2 separate regions of the Homo sapiens genome follow, and region 2 is linked to region 1. Evidence: fine-mapped expression QTL. A gene starts in region 1. The other region holds a variant in brackets. All regions are shown on one strand. Distances are from middle to middle.

Region 1 (2,922 bases):
GACATAAATGAAACTAGCAGATGCTAAGTTATTATTATTTTTGAAACCTGAATCAAATGTGAAAGGGAAGATAAAAGATGCCGGATTCCTATGTATCCCTCCAGGCAAGTGGGCATTGCCTTGTAAATTCTCTCTTGCAGGATTTAGCTCTCAGAGTCAATGAGGTGAATTTCTCACTCCTGACTTAAGCATTAGAAGGCAGGGGTGCAACATAGCTGTTTATTTTTCACTGGTCCTCCCCTCAATACCTCTCCCATCTTCTTTTTCCATACCCTTTTCAACTCCACCTATTCTCCTGTGCCTGCCAACTCCCTCTTTTGGTCACATGCTAATGAAGGCTTCCTGTTTTCTGACAATGACCTAAATGTGTTTGACTTGCATTTTCTAGGAATATATGTTTTTGAATAAAGCACTCTAGAAAACTGGAAAAAAAATTGAGTCAAAGGAATTGAGCAATTTCAAGCTACATGGCAAGTTGGTAGGAGAAATACTTTTGGAGATGAAGATTTCTTATTAACCTCCACACCAAACAACATACTCATTTAGGGCAATCTTTTTGGCAAAGTAGAAAGGCAGCCATACCTGGAAATTGGGAGAAATACTTCCAAAGGACTCTTCTAGTATTTAAAATTAAATAACAAACTGCCTTTCTTTGATATGTAGCCACTTTCTCCTCAGGTAGACTCTAAATTTTAAAGCACAACCATCTCTTAGGCTTCCAGTCTATTATTGGTCCTTCACAATCAGCATGATTTTATTATGTATTTAGCATACCATTTCATAAATCCTTTGAGGTGTACAGTCCTCCCACAATGACGCGCCACTCCCAGCCCTCATATATACTTATAATTCCACAGAAACAAAACACAGGGAAGAGCCTTGGCTTCTCAGGATCTGATGATGCTTACCTATGGATTCCTCTGTACTAAGTGTCATGTCTTGGCTGTTTCAGGGTCTCTAAAAGATAGCACCTAAGTATTAGAAATAGTAAGGCTAAAAAATCAAAGAGGCAGGTTGGCAAGTTTCTCATATAAGGTTCACATAAGCCTCTCTAAATGAAAGTGCCTCCTCCACTTGATTGGCACAATGGTCTGGGAGCTTCCAGAGATGGGCTTGCTGTTGAAGTTGATACTGTATTCTACCACTATGACATTGTCTTGCGTCTGAACTCCTGCTAACCAACAAAATGGCTGCATCTCACCAAATATTGTCCCTTTGGTGACCAGAGTATTTGGGAAAGAAGTAATTAGAGACTGGGATTCAAACCATTGTTGCAGACCAAAGGTGCTCCTCTCCCTAAACTTGAGTCCATTGATCACAAATTCAGGAATGGTTTTCAGTAGTTGCTTTACTGTCCTGATGTTGGGAAAGGCTTTATGGTGAACTCGTTGATTGTTACACTTAGTGAAAATCAGTCATATGAACTGAGCATGCTCAGTGGACTGGAATGCACTTCAGGGGCAGTTGGATGGAATGTCCAACTGACAGCAGCAAAGTGAAGACCTCTCTACCTCCCTCTCCATTAATTCCTCCCTGGCATGTTCAGGATCTTGGCCTCACTCCAGGCTCAGGCTTTTTCTCTGTCTTCAGCTTTCTTTTTGTTTTCAAATTATTTTTTATCTAGATCAATTTTCCATAATGTTTTCAACTTATCTAGCATGAATTGAAATCTGGTCCCCAACTATAAATCTATGTGATGACAATCTTCAATATATGTCCAGACTCTATGTGAATATGGAGGATGATAGAGAAAGGGAAGGCAGTACTGCTAGTCTATAGGGCTAAATGTAGAATGGGCTGAGGAGGGGAGCTCATGACAATTTTCATCTGCTGCTGCTTTTTTGGCCATCTTAACTTCATCGGTGAAGCTTATTCCAGATTCAAAGGTCAACTGCTTCCAACTAAACCTTTGAATTCATCATTCTTCTCATAGACATTTTGCACTGTATTAAAGAGATCCTCAACATTTTCCGCTTCCCAAGTCAGCATCACTTTCAGAGTTTTGTCTCCAGGTGACTTTATCATGGGATTTACTTGGTATCCTTATTTAAAATGTGAATTCCCAGGCCCCACTTCAGACCCAGTAAATTAGAATGAGGGGGCAGCAATCTATATATTTAATGTGCGCCCCTGGTGATTCTTAGGTTCACTGAACTTTGAAAAGCACTGACCAAGGTCCTTGCCCAAACATTCATTAGTGGATCAGTAAATAGCAGTTAACTGAAGAATGTTTGTTGTGGTTGGGCAAGGAGCTCTTCCCCAGCATCATGACTCACTGAAGAATAGGCCAAGTTTGGTTAGTCAGGGAGGTACTGGGGTGATTAGAGGCATCCCGAAACTCTTAACATCTATAAGATGTTAAGTCTACTTGTAGTAAATAAAACAACAGATTCCCTATAAGGGAAAAAATGATGTTAGAAATTATGTGCTCTTAGAGTCTTAAAAAACAATGTACAGCAGAATCAATAATAAGAAAGCTAGCCATTTAGGTAATTGTTACAACCATTTTCTTAATATTTTTGTGAATGGTGACAAATGATTTTTCTGTATGTCTGTATATAAAGACTTCCTTGATTTCATAGAGATTAGAGAAGTTAGGAGATAATTGATTTATTTTGACTTTTAATTTATTCATCGCTGCAATCAAAACACAACTTTTTGCTAAAATCCTTTCAGACAAAGTAAATTCACTCATTGAAACCAATACTGCAGATAGTTTTAAAATCCCCAAATCCTCAAAATAGCTGATTTGCTGTCATTTTATTTCATTTTTCAGTCGCCTGCTTGTTACATCTTCCCATTATTTCTTCCTCTTCTCATTGCATGAGGCTAACACAATATGGATTTGATTTCTCTAAGACTCTAAGAGGATCCTAAACACGAATTCTCAAAGTGAATAGGATGGCATGTGCTAACTAATTA
Region 2 (2,855 bases), 88 kb before region 1:
CCTGGTCAGCTTGCTTGGAATCCAGCAGGCAGCTGGGGCTGAGTGAAAACATCTGCACAACTGGGCACTGGACAGCTTTTCCTTCTTCTCCAGTGTCTACCTTCCTCCTCAACTCCCAGCCATCTGTATAAACACAATCCTTTGTTCTCCCAAATCTGAATCGAATTACTCTTTTGCCTCCTTTTTAATGTCAGTAAGGATATGAGCCTTTGCACAGGCTGGCTGCGTGTTCTTGAAATAGGTGTTACCTTCTCTGGGCCTTGGTTTTTTAAAATCTGTAAAATTAGAGGATTGCACTAGAGAAACTTGAATGCTCCATTCAGGCCTATCATTTTATTAAGTATGATTGACACAGCCCATGGGCCAGAACACACTCTACAAAATGACTAGGATAACAGAAAGAACGTGATCTCCTGATTAGAGAGGGTGGTTTTCCTCAATGGAACCAAATATAAAGAGGACTTGAACAAAAATGACAGATACAAACTATTTCTATCCTGAGTAGTAATCTCACACTTCATCCTATAGAGTCAACCACCACAGATAGGAATTCCTTATTCTTTTTTTAATTTTTTTAAGACAGAGTCTCACTTTGTTGCCCAGGCTGGAGCGCAGTGGGGTGATCTCATCTCCCTGCAACCTCCGCCTCCTGGGTTCAAGCGATTCTTGTGCCTCAGCTTCCCAAGCAGCTGGGATTACAGGTGCCCGCCACCACGCCCAGCTAATTTTTGCATTTTTAGTAGAGATGGGGTTTCACCATGTTGGCCACGCTCGTCTCCAACTCCTGACCTCAGGTAATCCGCCTGCCTTGGCCTCCCAAAGTGCTGGGATTACAGACATGAACCACCACGCCTGGCTGGAATACTTACTCTTGTCGGGAGATTGAACCACTAAAATGTTAGAGCAGAATTCATTATGCTGTGGTCACAGGGGTGTCTTGTCTGAGAACAAATACAATTCAGTCTTCTCTTTGGGGTTTTAGTATGTGTCAAACATAGGACTGGAAGTTTGCCCCTGTTCTTTTTTCTTTTGAAAGAACATCAGTTCATGCCTGAGGCATGAGTGACTGTGCATTTGAGAATAGTTTTCCCTATTCTGTGGATACAGTCCCAGAGTTTTCAGGGAGTACACAGGTAGATTAGTTTGAAGCATTGACCTTTTATTTATTCCTTATTTCTCTTTCATCAAAACAAAACAGCAGCTGTGGGAGGAGAAATGAGAGGGCTTAAATGAAATTTAAAATAAGCTATATTATACAAATACTATCTCTGTATTGTTCTGACCCTGGTAAATATATTTCAAAACTTCAGATGACAAGGATTAGAACACTCATTAAAGATGCTA[T/G]TCTTCAGAATTGTTTCATTTGTATGATGTTTCATTTTAGAGAAGATTTTCATGATGAATGGTTAATGTGTTCTTGCCTGAAGTTTTATGTCTGATCCAGATCTAGCTTTTTGTATCAAAGTGTGCCCTAAGGGAAGATGCAGATATAATATGTTGAAGTTACAAGGAGGCAGGTTTCAATTGGTTAAAAACAATGACATTCAGACATTGCAACTGCATTTGTTAGCGGTTATTACAGAGTTAATTTCTACCCTGGATGGGAGGACACATTTGAACATGCTAGGCCTGGATGCAGACCCTGAGACAAAAGGTTGAACAAGTAATTCATTTGGAAGGAAATACCTCAGTATCCTTCCAATAATTTCTCCTCTTAGCTTAAGCTAGTATGGAGTTAGATTCCTACCGCTTATGTATCACCATGCCCCCTTCCTAAATAATACAGAGGATATGGTCAGCATTATCACATATCATCAGAGATTGAGGTTTGAAAGAAAGGAAATGAGTAGATGTAACTAAGAGGTTTGAGAAAGGAATTTCAGCAGAGTTATTGAAGGAGAAGTCAAGGAGAGGAGAAGGAGAGGAGCAGTGAATGTTGTCGTGAAGAGGTGTTGTCTTGAAATACTGTATTTTTTTCCTCCTTTTCTTTTCTGAACATTCTTGTGCTGACCTTTCCTCTAGTCCAACAGAGGCATTCACAATTGCCTGTGGAGAATTAGGATTGTCGCAGCAGGTCAGCAAGGAGAAAGTCATTTTTAAGATTAAATTTTTAAAAATGTTTTGAAACTTCCAAAATAAGTTCTTGAACACCTATGGAGAGGCTTTGAGGAAAGTTAAGGGAATGATTTTATACCACAAAAATAAATGGAAAAAGAATAAAGACTGTGAGAATTCCATCTTCCTGCCCTTTCCTGTGCCTCAGATCAGGTGAGGGTCATCTGGGTTAGAAGGGGATAGAGCCTTGGAGGAGGCAGAGGGCAGAAAGCATTGCTGAGATTAGAGTCATTTGGCCCTCAGAAGGAACAGACAAAGAGAAGGAAATTGGCTGGTGCATTAATCATCACTAGCTTCAGGGAGCTATGTGGAGGCCAAGGCACATCCTACAGATCATCGCTTACCACTCATGAGGACGCTACAAGTTACCTGGGCAGAGAAGGTGCCTGAGAATATTTCCTAATCGTTTTGAGAAGTGCCTTCCTGTGACATCTTATGTATTTCCTAATTGATCAAAAGTAGTGCTGCTTCTCTAAGCCCTGAGATTTAATGAGCCCCATTCAAACTGTTATTAATGTAACCTTCTTTCCCAGTGCAGGATGACTTGTAATCACCTTGAAAGAGAAGGAGGGTTCTTCGTATTCAGGTAGGGTATGGTAGGGATGTGGAGTGCCAAGCAGGAAATCTGACAAGTGACCCCCGGAACTTTGGATTACCTAGCAACTAGCCAGGTAACTGGCTAATCTGATTGAGGGTTGCCCTCTTTGCTGGGCAGATCATGGCTAATCTCAGCTTCACAT

Evidence for each region. PIP is the estimated chance that this variant, and not a neighbour inherited with it, causes the effect.
Region 2: its variant is fine-mapped to the expression of MROH2B in atrial appendage (GTEx, PIP above 0.99).

Annotation. Positions count from the first base shown.
Region 1 is chr5:41,069,917-41,072,838 of GRCh38, forward strand. It overlaps MROH2B (maestro heat like repeat family member 2B), which reads right to left and starts at 1,426. Exons shown (of 42, transcript NM_173489.5): 1 at 909-1,426. The coding sequence starts at 936. LOC105374739 (a long non-coding RNA gene) reads left to right here and starts at 1,441. Exons shown (of 6, transcript XR_001742650.2): 1 at 1,441-2,012.
Region 2 is chr5:40,981,586-40,984,440 of GRCh38, forward strand. It overlaps C7 (complement C7), which reads left to right. Exons shown (of 18, transcript NM_000587.4): 18 at 1-2,855. Among named protein-coding and RNA genes, the nearest start is that of C7, 74 kb to the left of the region's middle. The variant T/G (reference allele first, on the strand shown) is at 1,345.